3 linked regions of the Homo sapiens genome follow. The protein of the gene in region 3 purifies or fractionates together with the protein of the main gene of each other region. This does not show direct contact. Each region holds a gene or a part of one and is shown on either strand. Other genes may lie near its edges. The genes, in order: RPP25L, EIF4A1 and IBTK.

Region 1 (6,752 bases), on a different chromosome or scaffold from region 3:
TCAGATGGGTCAGACCTGAGGCATCCAGGAGAGTTGGGGGCAGGATGGAAATGTGCACCTAGAGAAGGGGGCAGTGGACAGAGTCACTGTCCAAAGCTCTAGGACCTAGCCATCTCCCTTGCCAGGTCCTCAGGCCCTTACATGGGCTGATTAGCAATGCCCAGGTTTGCTTCACTGCAACTATCTTGTCCATTTTTGCTTTAGAGGAGCAGTTTATCCTTTCCCAGGTTGCACTCCTGGAGCAGGTGAATGCCTTGGTGCCCATGCTGGACAGTGCTCACATCAAAGGTATCTCTCTGGGGTTATAGCTTCACTACTCTGGTTGGGGAGGTAGGTGGATGGATGGGCAAGACTTTCCTGTGTTTCAGGTTGTGTGGATTCGGGTTGGGTCTGTTCCTTATCTTTTTTTTTTTTTTTTGGACAGAGTCGTACTCTGTCACCCAGGCTGGAGTGCAGTGGCATGATCTTGACTCACTGCAACCGCTGCCTCCTGGTTCAAACAAACTTCCCACCTTGCCTCCCAAGTAGCTAGGATTACAGGTGTGTGCCACCACACCTGGCTATTTTTAGTAGAGACGGGGTTTCACCATGTTGTCCAGGCTGGTCTCAAACTCCTGGCCCCATGTGATCCACCTGCCTCGGCCTCTCAGAGTGCTGGGATTACAGGCGTGAGCTACTGTGCCTGGCCTGTTCCTTATCTTTATCCTCACCCTGAGGTACTTGCCACATCCACCAATTAAAATTACCAGGATAGAGAGCCCAGTTTTAGGACCTCAGGCAATTTGGGCCTGAGAACACTAGCCTAAGCTCTAGCAGTCCCCAGCTCTGGGGATTCCTTCTGCCTTCTACCTACCCCCAAGCATCTCTTCTTCAAGGTGCTGCAGAACCCAGATTTTACTATCAGAGTCTCTGCCAGGTCCATGAATGTATGTGAATTCTTTCTGCTGCACTGCTGAGAGCAGTCCCTGGGCCTGGACTTTGACAAGCAGATAGTGGCTTTAATTGAATCCAGATATCCATCTTGTCTGTCTGTGGAGGTATTTTTCCCAGCTCCCCCTCCCTACCCCTGATCAGCTGCCCGCTGAGTATCTGACAGCCTTAAGCTTTGAGCCCAGCATGGTGGCCAAGCCTTGGCGTGTTGGATTCCAGCTTAGGGACCTGGCATCCATCTTCAGACTCCCTGTTCCCTAAGCCAGGCAGACCTGCCCCCGCTGGGCTGAGAGCAAAGGGACAGGTCCTATAATAGCCAAAGCTCTCTTTACCTGGTCCTGCTTATAGCACTGGGGTGGGGGTAGGGAGCAACACTGGGAACCCCAAGGTTTTGTCTTCTCCTCGGGACATGTATCTTCCCCTCCCCTATGGGTCCTGGAGTAAGACTGGAGTGGGCAGGGAGCCCCACTGCCACCTCCAGCTGCAGCAGTCGATGAAGTCTGGCGTTTGTTTAGCTTCTCCACTCAATACTCTAATCCTGCCAAAGACCTAATAGACTATTGAGCAGTCCCGGGGGAGGGCACAAGCATCATCCAGCAGTGTGTGTTGTGTTTTACAGCCGTTCCTGAGCATGCTGCCCGCCTGCAGCGCTTGGCCCAGATCCACATTCAGCAGCAGGTATGGGAGGGGAGATGACTAGAAGCGAAGATGGAGGTGGCGCAGCACCTCATCCCAACTCATGCCACCTGGGGAAGCAGCTTCAGGCCTTTCTGTTGTAACCTCAGCAGAAACTTTGGGGTTTATCCTTTATCTTGCATATGCCCCAGGGAGGTAAAGGGACTTGCCTAGGTTCATGTACAAACTTTCTGCTTCCAGAGCAGGACTTTATTGGGACACCATAAGGTTGAGGCTGGGAGGTACCCAAGAATTCCTGGGGATGGTATGTCATTGACTGTGGGTAGAGGGGCTCTTTTTTCACTATTCCCAGGCCCTAGTGTAAAGTTCAAAGAGAGTTCAGAAATAAGGACAGAAGAAGAGACATACACTAGGGGGAATGTTTACTTAATGTATGGCCACTCCCTTTTCCATCCGTCTTTGGACTGCTGTTAGGGCACCCATCCTGGAGCCTGAAAGTGCTCCCATAGCCATTTGCTCCTTTGGCTTTGGGGTTAAGCGTCATCTTTTTTAGGCTCCATGGGGAGTGGGAGTCCGTGATGAGGCAGGAAGTTTAGTGGAAGATGTGGGCTTTGCCCAGTTCCTTTCTGTGCTACACTTTGGCCCTACAGGACCAGTGTGTGGAAATCACTGAGGAGTCCAAGGCTCTCCTGGAGGAATACAACAAGACTGTATCCTTTCTGCTCAACTAGGACCCTAATGGGTGCTGTCCCTAAGCCCTGTCCTTTTGTTCCACCTCTAGCTCTCTCTCATCCTATCCTACCCACCTATGTTTGCCTGTTCCCCACTTTCCATGAACTTCCTCACTCAGATTCCTATTCTCACCTTGACCTACAACCAGACAATGCTTCTCTCCAAGCAATTCGTGCAGTGGGATGAGCTACTTTGCCAGCTAGAGGCCGCCACGCAAGTGAAGCCAGCAGAGGAGTGATAGCTGCTCCCCATCCCAAAGTGGGCCTGGGCAGTCAGGCTCCAGGGCCCTATGCCAACCTGCCTTTGTTACAAGGCAGAGGAAGCTTTGTATTTATTGGCTTCAAGGCCCACCTCTCTGTACTCTGGGCTCTAAAGTTGGAGGTCAGGTTACCTGAGGTTTGCAATTTGCAACACCCACCCTCCCCCCAATCAGTGTTCTTATTTCAGTGACAATAAACCATAGAGATGACTGGAGGAGTGTGCTGGCTTCTTGGTCTAGGATGGAGGTGGTAGGGGGCAGAGGTGTCAGCCTGCCTAATCGTTTGACTGGGAACTAAACTCATCCTGGTCTGGCTTTCTGGCAGGTGTAGAGCTCTCAAAATGAAGGCTCTCATTTGATTATGTGAATAGGATATTCCTTTATGTATCCATTTATCCCACATTTACCAATAAGAGACCTCCAAATGTCAGATGATGGGAGTAGATAGGGCTAATCCCTGCCCTGCACGGGCTAGCAGGATAGACAGTAAAGGAAAAGGGCAGTCCTATCAGGTGGACACAGAAGAAAAAAGGGACTGAAGGGACCTGGTAAGTGATATCCAGGGACTTTCAGAGCCAAGGGAGCAGCATGTGCAAAGGCCTTTAAATTTCTCTCTTGGGAGCCTACCTGCTGCCACGAGCCGAGAAGGGCAGCCTAAGAGGTTTGGATGCAGGAAGTTTTGGTCCTGGGGAGGGGAAGTTGGGAAGTAGGGGCGCTGGGGCAAGCATGTTGAGAAACAGATTGGCACCGTAGTCCACCAAATGTTTGCTGCCCCCTTGTGGTCTCAGGGAGTGCTCTGGCTCCAGACCCTTTTTCCAACGGCCCATTGGCCGCCCCGCCTTTGCGACCTCTCCGGCACCTCAAATTCAGCGTGTCCAAACCGATCTGAAACCTGGGAGTCACCCTAGATCGGAATTTCCTACTTCTCCGTCCAAACAGTGGCCAACTCGTCACTGAACCTACTAGTATCTCCCAACTTAATCTTTTTTCCATTCCCACCGCGATTTCTCTGGTTCATTAATGTAACAAATCATTTAACAAATATTGAGCGCCGGTCATACGCCAGGCACCATACTAGGCTCCGTGGGCACCCCCGCCCCCTCAGCCCCCAGACTCCGCGGCAGGTGTCGTCAGGGGCTGTGGCCCGATTTCCCCACCACTCCCTCCTCGGCTCCCTGCACAAGATCTGGTTCGACTGGCCCCTGGAAAACCCGGAAAACCCCCGTGGTCCGCCAGCGCCCACAGGATGAGGTCGAAGCTCAGAAGTCGGTAACTAAGGCTCTCGCCCATGCAACAGCAGCCACTACAAACTGAAGCCTTTGTTCGCACCCACGGTGAAACCCACAGCTCCCCGTTTGCTCAACAGCTAACGCCAGCCCTCCCATCTTCTAAGGGCCAGATCCCCCTCCTTCAGACGCAGGACTTCCCCGACGGCCGCTCCTTTCTACCGCAGGGAACTGTCCTGCCTCCCTCCGGGGCGTAACAGCGGAGGCTGCGCTCGTGTTCCCATCCCCGCTGGGACTGGTCCGGGGCGCTCTGGCCAGCGGGTTGTTTCCGCGGCGGAGATGCCTCGGGGCCCGTCCCTCACGCCCCGCCCCTCACGCCCCGCCCCCTCGGGGCGTGCGCGGCCCCGCGGCCTTAGTGCGCTCCGGGCCCGCGCGCCATCTTGGCTCCGGATCGTGCGTGAGGCGGCTTCGGTGAGAGCCGGAACCGGGCGGGCAGAGGGGCGCTCGTAGGGTTGGGGGACGCCTGTGGCTTGGCTGCAGCGGCCGGCAAGACCCTGGAAGAGACCGTGGCTATGGAAACGGCCAAGGCTGTCTTGGAATGTCCTGAGCAGCCCTCCGAGTCGAGCCTCTGCCCCCGAGTTTCTGAGTGACCTGGGTTGATATAGATTGACCTTGGTAATCTCTGGGAGAGGGGATCCGTTCTGTTTGGGGGCAGCACTGGATAAGGGTTCTTGGCTGTTTCCCGGGGGGCCTGGGGCGAAGGGCCTTGTCCCTGTCCTTGTAGAGCCCCAAGTGAGGAGCGCTCTCTATTGGTATTAGTCTGGGGTGAGGGTTCCAGGCCCTGTTCCAAGGAGCCCAGGATAAGGGGGGCTAAGCCCCAGTCCTGGAGAGTTTAGGATGAGGGGGCCTGGCACTTTCCCAAAGAGCTCAGTGTTTGGGGAATGTGATCCTGCCTCTTGGACTCCAGGATTGGAGGTGGGGGTGTTATGGCCCTTGTAGAGGAACGGGGTGTATGGGGTACAGCCCTTTCCCAGACTGCGGCAGGCATGGACCTTGTCACGAGATGCTAAGGACAAGGGGACATGATCCTGTTTCTGGGAAGTCTGGAACGGGGAGCAGGGCCATATCCTGGATGGAGATAGGGGATGGTGGACAGTGACTTGGGGCACATTGCTTAGCACTTACCTGATGCTTCCCTGCAGTGGGCAGCGAGAGTCACAGACAAGACAGCAAGCAGGATGGAGCACTACCGGAAAGCTGGCTCTGTAGAGCTCCCAGCGCCTTCCCCAATGCCCCAGCTACCTCCTGATACCCTTGAGATGCGGGTCCGAGATGGCAGCAAAATTCGCAACCTGCTGGGGTTGGCTCTGGGTCGGTTGGAGGGCGGCAGTGCTCGGCATGTAGTGTTCTCAGGTTCTGGCAGGGCTGCAGGAAAGGCTGTCAGCTGCGCTGAGATTGTCAAGCGGCGGGTCCCAGGCCTGCACCAGCTCACCAAGCTACGTTTCCTTCAGACTGAGGACAGCTGGGTCCCAGCCTCACCTGACACAGGGCTAGACCCCCTCACAGTGCGCCGCCATGTGCCTGCAGTGTGGGTGCTGCTCAGCCGGGACCCCCTGGACCCCAATGAGTGTGGTTACCAACCCCCAGGAGCACCCCCTGGCCTGGGTTCCATGCCCAGCTCCAGCTGTGGCCCTCGTTCCCGAAGAAGGGCTCGAGACACCCGATCGTGAAGACCTGCTGAGCCAGCCTGTTCTCCGGGCCTGAATGTCTGGGGTGCTTGTGCCTTTTCTGAGAAGCGTTGTGACTGCTCAACATCCCCATCAAGGTTTGAGTCCACAAAAGTGGACCTCCCTATCATGCTTCCCCTTCCCTCTAGCATGTGGGAAGGGACTGCTGTGAAGAATGACAGATGTGGGGCCTCTGCCAAGTTCTGCATTGCTAAATAAGGGCTTCCTCTGCCTTCTACCTACAGTGCATTTGAACTGCCTTCTGAAAGAGGTCCAGGGAGGGATTTAGGAAATAAAGTTTCTACCTATTTGATGAGCCTCTACTCAGCCTGCTATGTGGAGTGGGATTAAAGAAATGGGAGTCCCCGCCCTTACCCCGGGGGGCTGATCGGGTGAAGACAGAGGAAGAGTAGTAGGCTCAGGCCGGTGCTGGGAGAATATAGTGTCTACAAGAAGCCTCAGTCAGTACTGAATATATCTAATTCCCTGGATAGTTATTTGCCCCTGCTTTGGCCTGGTTTAGGAACACTGCCAGGTCAGACATTTCTCTCCATCTGCAGCATACAGTATAGTATAGTGGTTGTGAGCATGGACTCTGGTACCAACCTGCCTGGGTTTCAATCCTGGTCTGCCACTTATTAGCAAGTTACTGCTCTGTGCCTTAGTGGTCTTATCCATAAAACAGGAATACGATAGTGTTTATCACATAGGATTGTTATGAGATTACATAAGGAAATATACATATATGACATTTAGATACCACACTGGCACATAGTGCTATTAAGTGTTAATTGCTATTATCGTTATTAATGACTTACCTATCCCAAATGCAACAACTGTCTCACACCTCCTTCCCTCCAGCTTCCTTGCCCCAATCTCAGCTATGGAGCTGGACTCTGCTTTGAAGAGACAGAGGCCTTTCGAACTCCCTCATGTTCCATCTTCACCTCCAGACCTGTCTGTATACACATTTATCCTCAACTCCACTAGTTTGCAAACATGCTTTTTCCTGTCTTAGAATCATATCTTTGGGTTGGGCACAGTGGCTGATGCCTGTAATCCCAGCACTTTGGGAGGCTGAGGCAGGAGGATTGCTTGATCCCAGGAGTTGGAGACCAGCCTGGGCAACATAGTAGGGAGACCCTGTCTCTACAAAAACATCTAAAAATTAGCTAGGCATAGTGGTGTGCACCTTTAGTCCCAGCTACTTGGGAGGCTGAGGCAAGAGGATCGCTTGAGCCC
Region 2 (8,177 bases), on a different chromosome or scaffold from region 3:
TCTAGATATTTAGAACCCTTAACCTTCTGAAAACTAATTTGACCAACTGCCTCATCACGCAGCAACCATTTTTTTTTTCTTTTTTTGAGACAGAGCTTTGCTCGTTGCCCAGGCTGGAGTGCAATGGCACAATCTCAGCTCACTGCAACCTCCACCTCCTGGGTTAAATTCTCCTGCCTGAGCTTCCCGAGTAGCTGGGATAAAAGGCACACGCCACCATGCCTGGCTAATTTTTGTATTTTTAGTAGAAGCGGGGTTTCACTATGTTGGCCAGGCTGGTCTCCAACTCCTGATCTCAAGAGATCTGCCTGCCTTGGCCTCCCAAAGTGTTGGGATTATACGAGTTGAGCCACCACACCCAGCCAGCAACCAGTTTTATAGAACAGGTGATGCATATCCATGTCCTATTGCACTCCTGCCATAGGACCCAAGCTACGAGGCATGTTCACTCTGAGAAAACTGAGAGCCAAGTGCCTTAGAATGGAGCTCTGCTGTAACTTCTTACATTATCCACACCCAGAATAATCACTGCCCCTGCCACAGAACATTTAAAAACATGCTCTGACATCAGTGTTGCAGCATGACCCAGGAAAAAGTCCAGCATTAGAATTGTGTGTGCCCCAGGCATGAAACAGCTCTGGCTATTAAGCAAGGGTGAAAAGGACTGTCCATCTGCTCTGACTACTGTAAGATCACCCCCACACCAAGGGATCTCTTAGCCCATAGTGAAGGTGCTTATTCAGAACACAGTCAAACTTGCCCAGCCAGCCAGGCTTCACCCAACAGCTTTCCCATTTGACTCAGGAAATGGGTGGAGGAAGCAATGGTTACGTTTGGGTAAGAAATAGCTTTTAATTAACCCAGCAGGTCTCGAGAGTGTTAGGGCACCCATGTCTTCCTCCCAAGGTGGTGATCAGAGAAGACTTCTCTGGTCCTTGGATTATACTCATCATCCCTAAATCAGCCCTGAAGGAGGGAATAGAAGCCACTCTTACCTGCTGAGCCAATTCTCGAGTGGGTGCTAGGACCAAGGCCTGGGTGGCTTTTAGATCTAATTCAATCTGCTGCAGAATCGATATGGCAAATGTGGCCGTTTTCCCAGTCCCAGATTGGGCTTGAGCAATCACATCATAACCTAAACAAATAAATTAGGAGTTGAATGTGGTAAAGAGCATACCCTTTGGGATATTCAAGTCCTAGGTTAATGAGGTCAATAAGCAACCAATGAACCAAGCATTTCATGGCTCACAAACTACCTTCCCAATCAACACAGTTACACAATGGGAACCAGATCAGAAACAAGGACCAGTTATTAACTCATCTAGTATTGCACACCAAGCTGGACTAGAAACATGGCTGTAGATGCAAATATAAGCTGGCTACAATACCACCTCTTTAAAGGAAACCTATGTGTCCAAGGCATGAACCAGGCATGGGCACGGATCAAAAGCCAAGCTGGGATGAACAAGGAGTTGCTTTGTCCCTGGCTGATATGAGATGGGCATCACCAACCAGATGCCACTCTACCCAGGTCAGGGACAGTCCACAATGTCTTCTGGGACTGAGAGGTCTCACCCTTGATACAAGGTAGAATGGCTCGCTGCTGGATGGCAGAGGGCTTCTCAAAACCATACGCGTAGATGCCACGGAGAAGGGACTCCGAGAGGTTCATGTCATCAAAGCTGTCAACAATCTCATTCCAGTTACTCTAGGGGATGCAAAGAAATTAAAGCTTGAGTCATGGAAAAGGTGGAGCTGAGCTGTAGTCTCCGAGCAAACAGAATCTGGTGCCTACTAACAAAAGCCTCAGAGCTTACAACCCTCCTCCCTTTAGGGAAACCAGCTGCTTCTAGATGATCTGGGAAATCAATCAAGAGGCCACTCTAACTCTATACGGCTGAAAGTTGTAATGGGGGAGGACAGAATTCCATTTCTCCAGTCTCACCTCGATGACGCCTTCGGGCTCCATCCCATCGGGGCCATTGTCTCTGGATCTGTTGGTTTAAAGCATAAGTTTTGTCCCCTGCCCGACCGAAGCACTCAGAAATCCTGACAGCCGGGCTCTGTCAGGAGTGGCCTGCATGATGCCATCAATCTGCTGTCCCAGATCCAACTCCCACCAGCTCCCAAAAAATACCCAAAGGAGGAGTTTCTATAAAACTGAGGCATTTGCCCCATGCAGGCAGCGGCTCAGGCCAGGCCACCCCCGACATAAGGGGGTGACCCTTTCTGAAGACAGGCCGGCAGGCGTGCCGCCGCGCTCACGGTGCCCAGAGGTGGTGCTTGCCGCCGGGTCCACGTGGGCCCGACCCAGCCGCTTAAAGCCCAAGCGCGTGCACCTCCCACCGCAGCACCAGCGCGCTGGAAGTCCCGCCCTTCACCTCCCAGATCGGAGGGTAGGACATCCCCTTCCCCCCACGTCATCCCGCCCGCGCCCTCCCCCACTCCCTCCAGCCGAAGCCCCCCCCTCGCGTTGCCCGGATGTGGGAGGCCGCGGGCGGTGGCGGCCTCGCGCACAATGAGCCCAAGCCGAGCTAGCAAAGGGGGAGATTGCACAACACTTAGAAGCGAAGCAGACTGGGGGAGGGGAACGCCTCAGGCCACCATGTGCTCGCTCCCTCGACCACCCGGCGGCGTCTCCCACCCCTCCATGAACAATCCACATCCCGCCCGCCCCCGTCGCGAAGTAGCGTCGCCCTCCCATACCTCAGGCCGCTCACCCCCGAAGGAAGGTGGACCTGCCCATCCGCAGTTTGCCAATAGCCCGGCTTGTGCGGCAAAATGGACCCGCCCGCCCGGCGCCGGGTGGGCTCCTGGTGCCTCACGCGGCCGCTCCTCGGGGTTAGGCTCAGTCCTGGCCGTCAAGAAAACCAGCACACTGAACGGCCGGTTTCTTCTCCCCGACCCGTGTTTTAGCCGCGACGAAGTGACTGGATCTAAGGACCAGGCACCCCCGCCTCTCGCGAGTGGTACCGTCAGAATGCTCCGGAACCCCGCGCGCCGTCCCTCCCCCGGCACAGGGAGGCAACCGGACCTGCCGGCTCTGGGCCACACATAGTGGCGGCCGCCTCCACCTTTCTTTCCCACGCCAGGTCGCGACCCCGTCTCGCCACTCAGCGCCGGGGCTTCGCGCATGGCACCGCCTCGGGTCGAGGCCTCGTAACAGACCTCGCACGCCTGACCCTAGCCGGGCTGTCCCTACCCTCCGCCTCGACCTGGTGGCCGCGTCGGCCGTGGGTCTTCCCCCTCGCCCCTCCAAGTCGGACCCTCCCCCCACCCGGTTCGGTTTCTCCCGCAACCCTGGTGGGCCTCTCAGCTACCCCCGGCGGGCCCGTCGGAAGGGGGCGGCAAAATAAGCAGCCACAATCTCTTGCAAATGCCTTTCTTACCGGGAATCCTGGCTCGCAGACATGATCCTTAGAAACTAGGGCGGAGTGCCCGCCTATCGACAACTTATAGAGCGCCCGACTCCGCCCCGGCCATCGCATTGGTTTGGCCGCCCCGGCCCCGCCTGCCGGCGCTCAGCAACTCGGCATGACGTTAGTTCCTAGTCGCTCCGGCCCGCAGGCACCATTGGATAACTCGAGTGCCTATCAAGGTGAAGGCCCGCCCCGCAGCCTCATTGGCTGGAGGGCCCGCCTTTCTCGCCGGTACGGAAGTGACATAGAAGAGTCAGGCCTCGAGGCCTGGCAGCCATCTTGGGGCCCTGCACTCTCACACGTGCGGAGGCGACAGTGCCTTGGTCATGTGGCTCCGTAGGCCCTATCACGCAAGGGGGGCGAGGTCTCAGCCTCCAGAGGCTTCCGGGCTCTGGGGGTTATCACTTCCCTTTACTTCTGCTCCCGGTCTCCACTGGACTCAAATGTTATTTGTTTTCCCCTGTAGCAGAGATGGATTCGACACTGCCTGGACGTGTGCCAGGGATGAAGGAATCAACAGCGATATCGTAGGGATGGGAGGATTCCCCTGGCTGGATGGTGGAGGGATGGAAGAAAACTGTAAAGGGCTTTGGGGTACTATCATGAATCCTGGTTGGTCCCCTCCCCAGTCCCTTGTGTCCAGTTCCCCAGCTTCCCTCTCGGATGCCCTTATTCTTGAGGCTTATCTACTTTCCCTCCTTCCTGCTCTCTGCTCCCATCTCGGGGATTTGTTTGGGTGAAGACAAGGTGTTGGCAGTGCCTGAGCCAGGGATGGAAAGCTGAACCCTTTAGTCTCAAGAGACTGGCTGGAAGGTCTGAGCTAAGCATATCCACTAATTTGAAGCCCCTTAAGGAAGACCACCACTTACGTATCAACAAAGGATCCTTTATTGACCAGAGCAGGACCGTGGCATTTATATATTTTTATATATATATATATATATATATATATATATATATATATATATATATATATATATATATATATATATATATAAAAGTTTGAAGATCTGGCAGGCAGTGATCCTATTGTCCGCCCACCACCCCCAGCACTGATTTCCTGCTCCCTGCACGGGGAAGGGGGAGGATGACTGCTCCACCCAGGCCACAGGGCCACACTCCCCTGCAAACAGAGGAAGAAAGGGGCTTTTCTGTAGCCACCCCCTGCACATCAGAAATCAACAAGTATTCTCTCAAAGAAAAAAAAATACAGAAATTGAAACATTTAAATATGAAAAACCAAAGGGAAGTGAGTGGGAAGAGGCAAGAGAGGAAAGGAACTGGAGTTTCTTGGGAAGGGACTCCCATGTCTCCCTTCCCATTTATGGGCTTGGGGTCTGGGGTACGAGGCTCACACAGTGAGTTTGCAGTGACACAGCTCCTTGTAGATCTGCCGACGAAGTTTGGGCATGTCCTGCTGGGTGAAGCTGAATGGCTGAGACAGGGCCAGATGCTTGCAGTACTGGGTGTTAACAAAGCAAGCCATGAGAAACCCCCCGTGTCAGGACCTGTGCTACACATTTCATATGAGATGTGTCTCCATCCTTCAGAGAACATCCCCAAAGGGAGCCAGGGTCCCACAGCCTGGGGTTCAAAAACAGCCTGACTCTAAAGCTAGTGTTCTTACTTGATAGAATGTTTTAGATGGAGAAAATACACTGAGTTGGAGGTTAGCAGGGAGCTCTATGAAGGCCAGAGGCCCAAGACTAGAGACCCAGTCCCAATGTGGGATGGAGAAGTCCAGAAGAGAACCAGTGAAGCCAGTGTTTTGGTGTTCTAAAACAGATTACTTCCTGCTCCACAACTGACTATGAGCCAAATGAGGGGATGCATAACAGCCTCCCGACCCTTTAACCCAACTGACTTCAGAGCTAGGGGAGGTGGCCCCATCATCTGCTTACCTGCAACACAAAAGCACCACAGTCACTGTCATTATTCTGCCTGGCCACATTCTAGAGAAGAGAAAGAAAGCAGGCCCTTCACATGGAGACTCCCAGGGGTAGGACTTCAATTTCTGCCTTCTACCACTGTCCCCACCAACACCCTATACCCCTCCCTCAGGAAACTCACCATTTTGAAGTAACCTTTCCAGCCCTGGTGGAAATCCAGTCGGTCTTTCTTTACCGCCTCTGCCTGTAGATACTTGGCAATATGCTATGTGGATGGGGGAAAAGAAAGTGATGCCCTAAGTTTCTCAATTGAACACAGTATGGTGGGTACAGTGCTGGCAGACACCATGCCCAGGTCGCCCCTCAAAGACCCAAAGCCCACCCTTCTTCCTGCAATGCCTTGCCACTGCACCGCCCCACATTTTGCCCATCTCTCTCCTACCCCCTCAAACCTTAGGGCAGCGGCGGTTTAGGGTACGCTGCGAGTCAAAATAGGTGATGGTGCGTCGCCTCACATCAACAGAGATGAGGGACCAATGCACCTCCAGGTGGATGGGGATTAGCAGTAGCTCCTTATTGAAGATGTCCACCTAAAGAGATAGTGCCACAGGTCAGGTACAACAAACAGAAGTCTTGCCTTTTGCCATGAAGGTTCTAGAGAGGAACAGAGACACAGGTAAGGGAACCAAGTGAAAGAACAGAAGACCCAAGGCCTAGATTGTGGGCAAGCTCAGGATCTGCATGTTTCGGTTCTTCGGGGTAAGGGAGGAAGGTCAGACAATGGAGGAGACATCAGAACGAACACTGGAGAACCCATGATGGGCAGGCGCTTTTCACACTTTAAAGGGAGAAGCACTTAGCAGCTAAGAACCCAGGCCCAGGATTCTGGAGCCTGCCAGAATTCAAATACAGCTCCTCCATTTACTGGCTTATGACAGTGGGCAACCTACTTAATAACCTTCTATACCTCAGTTTCCTTATCTGTCAGAGAGTGTAAATAGTAGTACCTACACCTCATCCATTTGATATGAGGATTAAACTAGTGACTATCCATAATACACTTAGAACAAGACACAGCACAAAGTAAACACGCAGTTAATGCTCATAACAATCCTACCGGGAAGTTCTCAACATTCAACCTAACAGATGAGGAAATTGCAGCTTGGAAAGTCGTGACTTGCACAAGGTCATGAAAGAAAGAAATGGCAGAAGTGGGACTCAAACTCAGTATGAAGAAGGCCAACATGTTTTTCACTGTACGTCACCACCCTTCCCTCTACTGCAAGAAGATCCCTGAGGGTGTAAGCTCTTGATTTTGAGGACTGAAATTAAGGAATGCCGGAGCCAATCATCCTGCCTAGCTGTAGAAATTTCCTGGCCTTTGAATGGGAGGGCAGGGAAACCAGAAGAGAAAAGAACTCTTCATTTTCCTCCCCCAACCTGTTCCTCTCCCACTTTTCCCGTTACATAGGCCAAAAACCTAGGCATCATCCTCCATTTCTTTTTCTTCATTTCCCACATCCAACCTGCGGAGGAAAAAACAAATCTTTTTTTTTTTTTTGAGACGGAGTCTTGCTCTGTTGCCCAGACTGGAGTGCAGTGGCGTGATCTTGCCTCACTGCAAGCTCCACCTCCTGGGTTCATGCCATTCTCCTGCCTCAGCCTCCCAAGTAGCTTGGACTACAGACACGTGCCACCTCGCCCGGCTAATTTTTTGTATTTTTAGTAGAGACAGGGTTTCACTGTGTTAGCCAGGATGGTCTTGATCTCCTGACCTGGTGATCCGCCCGCCTCAGCCTCCCAAAGGGCTGGGATTACAGGCGTGAGCCACCGCGCCCGGCAAAAAAACAAATCTTCTTTCCTACTATACTCTCACAACACAAAATACTTCTGTAACCTGTGGTCACCAAGAAGTGTTTGTGGGGCTTTCTCTCCACCAACAACCAAGCAAGCAATTTTGCGGTGGACACAGCTGGGTATCCCCCAATTCAATTCCAACACTATCTACCTGGAGATAATGTGTCACAGGTTTAGGGCTCAGTCTCACAAGGCTGCCCCCAATTCTGATGCCAGTCCTAAGCCCCAGGTTGTTTTATCTGTGTTTCTCACCAACTGGTTAGATCAGCGTTCCCATGACCCCCTCCTTGAATTTGATTAATTTGCTAGAGCAGCTCACAGAACTCATGGAAACACATTTACCAGTTTATTAACAAAGGGTAGTACAAAGAGTACAGATGAAAAGATGCACAGGGAAAGGTACCGGGAAGAGGCCTGGAGACCATCCTGTGGGAGCCTCCATGCCTTCAGCTATCTAGAATGTCTCCAAACTCCTCCTCTCGGGTTTTTTTTTCTTTTTTGAGACAGAGTTTCACTCTGTCACCCAGGGTGGAGTGCAGTGGCACAATCTCGGCTCACTGCAACCTCTGCCTCCCGGGTTCAAGCGATTCTCCTGCCTCAGCCTCCCGGGGACTACAGGCGCACGCCACCACGCCCAGCTAATTTTCATATTTTTAGTAGAGACAGGGTTTCGCCAGGTCGGCCAGGCTGGTCTCAATCTCTTGACCTTGCGATCCATCTGCCTCAGCCTCCCAAAGTGCCGGGAGTACAGGCGTGAGCCGCCGCACCCGGCCCCTTTCCGGTTTTTAGAGGCTTCACTACTAGGCATGACTGATTAAATCACTGATCCTCAGTGATTGCCTTAACCTTTGGCCCCATTCCCCTCCCAGGAAGTTGGTGGGGGTGAGGCTGAAAGTTCCAACCCTCTAATCATGAAGCCACCTAGAGGGGCTAGCCATGAATCAACTCATCAGCACACAAAAACACACATCACTGGAGATTCCAAGGATTTTAGAAGTTGAATGCCAGGAGC
Region 3 (7,429 bases):
GCAACACGGCAAAACCCCATCTCTACTAAAAATATAAAAAAATTAGCTGGACGTGATGGTGCGTGCTTATAATCCCAGTTACTCTGCCGGCTTAGGTGGGAGAATCACCTAAGCCCGGGAAATCAAAGCTGCAGTGAGCTGATACTATACCACTGCACTCCAGCCTAGGCAACCAGAGTGAGAGACCCTGTCTCAAAAAAAAAAATCAAATCAATCCTTGAGGCCTAAAAGACTCTAAGAAGAAAGGGTAAACTTCTGTTGTCTTATGAATTCCTAGAAGTTCCGATACGTTTTGTGGATGTGTAGGAGTTACAGAAAAGTGACTCTATCTCTATTCAGTTACACATTTTTCTCTAATAGGTTAACAGCTATGGAATCAAATGTTAAGGAGTGTCTAAGAAATGCCCTCCCCAGAGCTGATTAGGCTAGGAATCCTGCAGCTTAATGTGCTAGATTAGGAGAAGAACTCAAATCATTTCCAAATTGTTTTGCTCCAGTTAATACCCTGGAGGAAAGAGACTGCGAACTTTCAAAGTAGGCTTATTTTCGAAATCATTTGCCTTGACAATTTTTAACTGATGTTAACTGACATTTCACAAGATAAATTTCAATAATTTAGCTACAAATATATTTTTTCAACATGTCTATAGTGTTATTATATTTTACATCAACATTATATTTTAGTTGCACAAAGACTAGAAATAACATCATAAAGGGCTCAAAACTGCCATTACAATCTCTAAAAATAGAAATGTTGTGCAAATTTAAGAAAACTAACACTATATTTGTGATTCTTATATACCAACCTGGAAACTGTTTTAAAATTAGGGCAAAAATAAGGAAATATTAAAGATAAACCATCTATAAATCTAAAATCTGAAGGTAAGGAGGTAGTGCTTCAAAAAACAAACCTCAATCTTATCTGAATGAAATCCTGTTGTGAAATCAGGGGACTGTAAATCTCTAGGACTACCCACTCCTGCATAGCTTCCTTCAGAGTCTGATGTCAACAGTTCTGGAAGAGATTCCACAGAATTGGTCTTACCAGACTTTAATAATCCTAAAACATGAAATTAAAAAAAATTAAACACATATGCATTAAACATATATGCATTACATTCCATGAACCAGAGAGCTAAAAAAGCTTTCATTTATCCAGATTTAATAACATTCAAATTATATTTATGGTATAAAAATCTTAATAATTCAAGTTAACTGGAGAAAGAAATCAGTTTAAGTGAAAAACTGAAATGGAAGAGATTCTAAAACAATAATTTTATTCATTACAATCACACACCAATTGTGTAATGAACCTGAGGAAGATAGTTCTTTGGGATCTGCTCTAAAAAGTGATTTAAAATATTTTTGTCCGCATAAGAGACAAAGGAGAAAGGGAAAATAATTAAAATCCAGACCTCTTTTCCCTTTCTCATCTGTCTCTTGGTACAGTGGTCTCCGCACCCAAGCAAGGGGGTAGCTTCATTCTATGTGGGAGGAACCCTGTGGCCTTTTTGCCTCTCACTTAGCCAGCTGACTGACCCCATAGCAGAGGCTCCCGCAGAAGACAACTGTGGCCTGTTTGAAGTGTGTTTTTCCCTGAAATCTCTGGCTATTGAGAGCTCGCTTGAAGCAAGAGGGTTGTTGTGAAATGTATATATCATTTCTTCTCTTAGGCAAGCTAAATGCCTGGCCTCATGCCACACCTGGTATCCAGGTTCAAACTTTTGCTTAGATTCACATGTCCATTTCCACACATTTCAAATTTATTAGAATCTAAATGAAGTACCAAAATAAGCTATAAAATAAAGATGTTATCTAACTTGTAACTAAAAGCTGTATAATTGATTTAAAAATAAAACCTACCATCTCTTATACATTGTTCTCTTTAAAGTAAATCACCTTAACAAGCTAAATGTTTCTTTTATTGTTATCACTACAATTTGGAAAGAACATTTAAACATTTTTTTTGCCACACAATCTTTTTGAATTTTTTTTTTTTTTTGAGACAGAGTCTTACTCTATTGCCCAGGCTGGAGTGCGGTGGCATGATCTCAGCTCACTGCAACCTCCACCTCCAGGTTCAAGTGTTTCTCCTGCCTCAGCCTTCCAAGTAGCTAGGATTACAGGCATGCACCACCATGCCCGGCTAATTTTTTTTGTATTTTTACTAGAGACAGCGTTTCACCATATTGGCCAGGCTGGTCTGGAGCTCCTGATTTTGTGGTCCGCCCGCCTTGGCCTCCCAAAGTGCTGGGATTACAGGCAGGAGCCACTGCGTCTTGCCTCTTTTTGAATATTTTTAAGGCTGGCAAATTTTCATCGAAGAGAATACATCTAATATTAGAACACTCTCAAAAGTCAGTTAGAAATAAATCCAGAAAAAAAGAGGACAATTAATGTGGCCAACAATTACTTCTGGTCAAAAACAGTTTTGCTGAATGCCGTTTGTCTAACTTTAAGATCGACACAGATGTTAAGCTTTTACGCAACTGTCTTTGATGAAATTGGCCTCATACTCAAATTTTCTTCCTTAACAGGTCTTTTTGGCCTCCAATTAAATCTGACCTTTTAGTTATCTTTGACTACAGATATCCTGGCCACAGAAAGAACAGTACACCAGGAAAATACGGACCTGGAATCAAGAGAACAAATTTTATTTCTTTTGGTCACTACTTCAAATCACTTATGTTTTTTGAGCTTCTTTCCTTAGGTTTAAAGTAAGGGACATAAATTATTTCATTACTAATGTCTCTTCTAGCTCTGAAATTCTAAGATTCTAACACATATGGTAACAATAACATTATTTAAAACAAACCAAATATCTGCTTTTCCATAAGTCATTTAGGTGACTGGAAAGTCATTACTTTCAAGACTGTCTATCCATTATTCATCCTTCCATCAATCCACCCCTGCCTCCTTCTAAACACTAACGGTAATTCATACAACACAGAGAACACAGAGTCACAGAATTTTAAATTTAGAAAAGTCCTAAGATAATAGCTTTCCCATTTACTAGGTCTCCTGATTCCTATTTTCATTGCTTCATAAATAAATTTTAGGCATATTATCTATCCTTTTTTTATCTTTATGTTATCTAAAACTATTCTTGACATTATTCCTTTGAGCTTTAGTGAACATATCAAGCACCTAATTTGAAGCATCTCAGTAAACATAAAAAAAAAATCCTTCTTCTTTGCCCTGCCTAACAAGCTTTTTTTTCCAAAGGGACACAAAACAATGTACTCTTCTATTTTTCAAAGTTGTTTGTATACAGCTGATTGACTATGAAGTACTGTTAGCAGAAACTGTACTAGGTTATGCCTTAGTGCTATAGACAAGAGTAACCTACCATTTCTGAAAGCCATACTGTAGTCTCATTATTTTATAGTCACAATTCATGTTTTATCTAAAGAAACTACTAAAACGTATATAGTTTAATCTAGATCAGATGAATCTAGAATGTGAGACAGTCTATAACACAATTGGACTGACCTTTTGGAAAAGAGAAAACAAAAAACAAAAAAGTACAGCAGTTTTATACTAGTTAGAAGAGACTAAAGAGATACTAATAAGCAAAGATAATATGAACCTTGATAGAATACTAGTTTTTTTGTTAATGTTAAAAAAAAAAGACTATAAAAACATTTGTCAACAATTAGGAAAATGTGGATATGAAGTATAATACTAATTAACACTAATTAATGTCAATTGTCTCAGGTATGATAATGGTATTGTGGTTGTGTAGAAGAGTATTCCCATCTTAAAAGATTCATATTCAAGTATTCGGGGGAAAAGTATCATGTCTACAACTTATTCCAAGTGGAACAATTTTTTTTTAAGTCTCTGTATTGTGTGTGTGTGTGTTTGTGTGTGTGTGTAACACATGGAGGAAAGAGGAGACAGTAAGCAACAAAGAGTCTGCAAGAAAATGCAAATGTGATGAGAAGTTAACAATAAATCTGAATAAAATGTACATAGGTGTTCATGGTATTTTTCTTTCATCTTTTCAGTAAGTTAAATATTCTCAAAAGAAAAAACTGGGGAAAAATATTTTAGAAAAACTACATAACCTGACCTTTACTTTCAAACAGGCTCACATAATGCCTAAATACATTTTATATTCTACTACCAGATTACAACCCCCTTATGCATATGAATGGCATCTTACTTGGAGTACTGACATATTTAAATTGAATCAACATGATAATAGTTATCTCTGTCATGTTTTGCCAACCTCTAAACCCCTATGCCACTGGAAAGAGTAGTCTTTCTAAAAACAAATCTCATCCAGTCACATCCTGTTTTAAATCATCAACAGCCACCCATAGCCTTTAGAATAAAACACAAATTCCTTAGTTTGGCATATAAGAGCCTCCAAAATCTGACCCTATCCAACCTATCTCCTATACTGAACTATATGCACAAGAAATGTGCAACTCTTTCTCTTGCTACTAAGCTTGGGAACACATTGCCCCCTTTGCTTAATATACCTATCTGCCTCCTTTTCTTAGATAACTTCATTCTTCAAGACTCAGCTCAGCATTGCTTTCCTCTAAGAGGACTTCCCTGATCTCAGATTAGTTTGAGTACCTCTTTTGTGCTCCCAGAGCAAACTTCAACTGGAGTACTTACAATAAACTATCACTTTTGGTACCTCCATAAGGACTGTTTATTTCAGTAGCCCCAGCAGATGACATATGTGAATAGAGACATAGAAGATTAGAACTGGAAATACATGCTCACTTTCCACGAACCTGTAGATGATGGACTCTGAATAATATCTGAAAGGTTATAACCTCCAGAACTATCTGAACGTTTACGTGGCTTCTTTTTAGCTTTTGTTTTTGCTTTCTTGAACATAGTTTCCCTAGGAAAAAGCAAACATAATTTCAGCAGTGTTTAGGGAGGTAACTAAGATAAATGCACTTATTTAACCCAACATGTTTAACCTGAAGGCTACTTTTTAAAATATTTACACTTTCAATGTGTTAGACCTACAGATATTAATTATGTATTTACTTTGTATTATACCAAGGTTAAGAATGAGCGTAACTACCTATTTCTTATGTCAGAATTTCTCAATTTCATCTTCCAATACCAACACAAAAGTGTCATATGTCCAAGATGAGAGTGAAGGGACACACTGGAGAAAAGAAGGAAGAAAAGGAGGAAAAGAAAAAAAAAAAAGAAAACAGCTTACGAATGATTTTGTTCCATATTTATTTCTTCTTTCAAGAAGATATCTCCATCTTCTACTTCCAAATAGCTAATATCTGGTCCATCTTGATATGGTGTAATGACTCTTCTATCCATTGCTGGAATCTGCAGAATTGAAGATATCACTTTTCAAATACAAAATCTGTGAAGTTTTTTTTTTTTTTTTTTTTTTTTTTTTGTGCACACGTGGCTCTTGCCATGTTGGCCAGGCTGTTTGGAACACCTGGCCCCAAGCAAACCTCCCATCTTGGCCTCCCAAAATGCTAGGATTACAGGCATAAGCCACCACACCCAGCCTAAAGATGTTTTTTAAATTATGTAAGATATTCCATTTTTAATATGTGGTGACATTAACTAGAACAGCCTTGAATACTCAATAACTTCCTAAATTTACAAGAGGGGGTTAAATTTTGATTCAATTCAATAAAAACTTTATTCCATAAACCTGCCAAAAAGGAAACTTGAGAAAAAGCTCCACTTTATTATTAAAGATAGATTTATTCATTTCTTAGGGATCATATGAATTCATGTTTTTGCACGGTCCTGACCTCTGGTAAATAACAAAAGACTTACTCTGAGGCTTTCAGTAACTTTCATTTATAAAGAAATTAATAAATATTAACTTTATTATTAAGTATCTTGAATTCTGATTATCATATGTATCTGTGAGATCTGTAAAGGAATCCTATATCATCAGTTTTAAAAGATCCTAATGTACTAGAAGTCATTAGGAAACTATTCCATTAATAAGTCTGATCTAATATACTGCTTAAGCTGGTAATATTATAGCCGCGAAAATCTTAAAACATAAACCTTACCATTTTCCGGTAAAACTCAGAAAGATCCTTCAAAACACCATCGCTTAAAACATCAAGAGACCTAAAATATAGGATACAAAATTCTATCTTAAGATTCAAGTGACTTGATAACTGTCAAGTTGCTTACATACGTAGATATTTCATATTGCTAGATAAGTAACAAAGTTATTTTTTAAGCATTATATATAGCAGTTGCTACAAATTCCTTTTGGAAATAGATGTGGTTGTATATTACATATTTCAAATAAACAGCAAAGCAAACATATTACACAAATATCTTGAATAAAACTCAAGCAACTCTTTTTTTTTTTCTTTTTTTGAGATGGAGTCTCACTCTGTCACCCAGGCTGGAGTGCAGTGGTGCAATCTCAGCTCACTGCAACTGCTGCCTCCTGGGTTCAAGTGATTCTCCTGCTTCACACCCTCCCAAGTGGCTGAGACTACCAGGCACACACAATCACGCTCGGCTAATTTTTGTATTTTTATTAGAGATAGGGTTTCACCATCTTGGCCAGGCCGGTCTTGAACTCCTGACCTCAGGCGATCCACCTGCCTCAGCCTCCCAAAGTGCTGGGATTACAAGCATAAGCCACCACACCCGGCCTCAAGCAACTATTATAAATAAATGTACAAAGAATCTTCTCTACTTCATAAGAGTTTCATAAAAATTAACTAAATGAATCTATGTAATGCTTTTAGAACACCGTCTAGCACATAGTTAATAGTCATTACTACTGAAGTAAAATATAAAAATAAACTAAACAATGAAGCTTTAAAATAAAAACTGACACCAGGAACTCTAATCTCAAATTTCTGTGTTCTCATATTGTCACCAATGACTTTATAGGAAGTAAAATATTTTGACCTTATATTTTTAAAAAAGTATACATTTATTTCATTTTAAAAAGATCACTGTTAAAAACATTCAAAAGTTTTCAAGAGCTCTCTAATTCTAAAATGTACATAACTTCTAAATCATCAGCATTGATCAAATTCTTTCCATCCAGGTAAACATCATTATTCACATTTAAATCACTAATAATATCTGCTATTATATATAAATATCTCCTTTTGCAACAATCTTACAACATATGCACCTCACCTACCTTGCTTCAAGTAAAGCTGCCATATTCAATCCTATAAACTGTAAACAAGACAGTTTCAACTGTTTTGCACTATACATTGCTGCAAATTCCAGTAGCATAGCAGCATTCTTCAGGGTAACTACAAAGAAAGAAAAGATTTGCAAAATTAGATAAAAGGCACATTACCACAGCAAAATAAAATACATTTATGTCTAAAGCTGTACGATTTGAACATTTGGAATAAAGAAAAAAAAGTTTCTTGCCAAAAATAAGTTAATACTGGGGCAAATATGTAACTCTTCCATCCCA

What was found.
Region 1: the proteins of IBTK (region 3) and RPP25L purify together in Homo sapiens (co-immunoprecipitation; 3 studies listed by BioGRID and IntAct, with this or other methods). This does not show direct contact.
Region 2: the proteins of IBTK (region 3) and EIF4A1 purify together in Homo sapiens (co-immunoprecipitation; 5 studies listed by BioGRID and IntAct, with this or other methods). This does not show direct contact.

Annotation. Positions count from the first base shown.
Region 1 is NC_000009.12:34,609,566-34,616,317, reverse strand, and holds RPP25L (ribonuclease P protein subunit p25-like protein), read left to right. Parts: upstream 1-4,220; 5' UTR 4,221-4,254; exon of another isoform or gene 4,255-4,458; intron 4,459-4,985; 5' UTR 4,986-5,021; coding exon 5,022-5,513; 3' UTR 5,514-5,823; downstream 5,824-6,752. Other genes in the region: DCTN3 (dynactin subunit 3), read left to right, coding at 205-288, 1,550-1,608, 2,217-2,276, 2,447-2,536. UniProt on the Homo sapiens protein: May be a component of ribonuclease P or MRP.
Region 2 is NC_000017.11:7,568,077-7,576,253, reverse strand, and holds the start of EIF4A1 (eukaryotic initiation factor 4A-I), read right to left. Parts: upstream 3,430-8,177; 5' UTR 3,413-3,429; coding exon 3,390-3,412; intron 1,995-3,389; coding exon 1,946-1,994; intron 1,709-1,945; coding exon 1,576-1,708; intron 1,542-1,575; exon of another isoform or gene 1,407-1,541; intron 1,136-1,406; coding exon 996-1,135; intron 1-995. Other genes in the region: SENP3 (sentrin-specific protease 3), read right to left, coding at 4,771-4,881, 5,321-5,371, 5,490-5,573, 5,761-5,898. UniProt on the Homo sapiens protein: ATP-dependent RNA helicase which is a subunit of the eIF4F complex involved in cap recognition and is required for mRNA binding to ribosome.
Region 3 is NC_000006.12:82,195,387-82,202,815, forward strand, and holds part of IBTK (inhibitor of Bruton tyrosine kinase), read right to left. Parts: intron 7,260-7,429; coding exon 7,142-7,259; intron 6,097-7,141; coding exon 6,036-6,096; intron 5,323-6,035; coding exon 5,201-5,322; intron 4,868-5,200; coding exon 4,755-4,867; intron 1,061-4,754; coding exon 912-1,060; intron 1-911. UniProt on the Homo sapiens protein: Acts as an inhibitor of BTK tyrosine kinase activity, thereby playing a role in B-cell development. Down-regulates BTK kinase activity, leading to interference with BTK-mediated calcium mobilization and NF-kappa-B-driven transcription.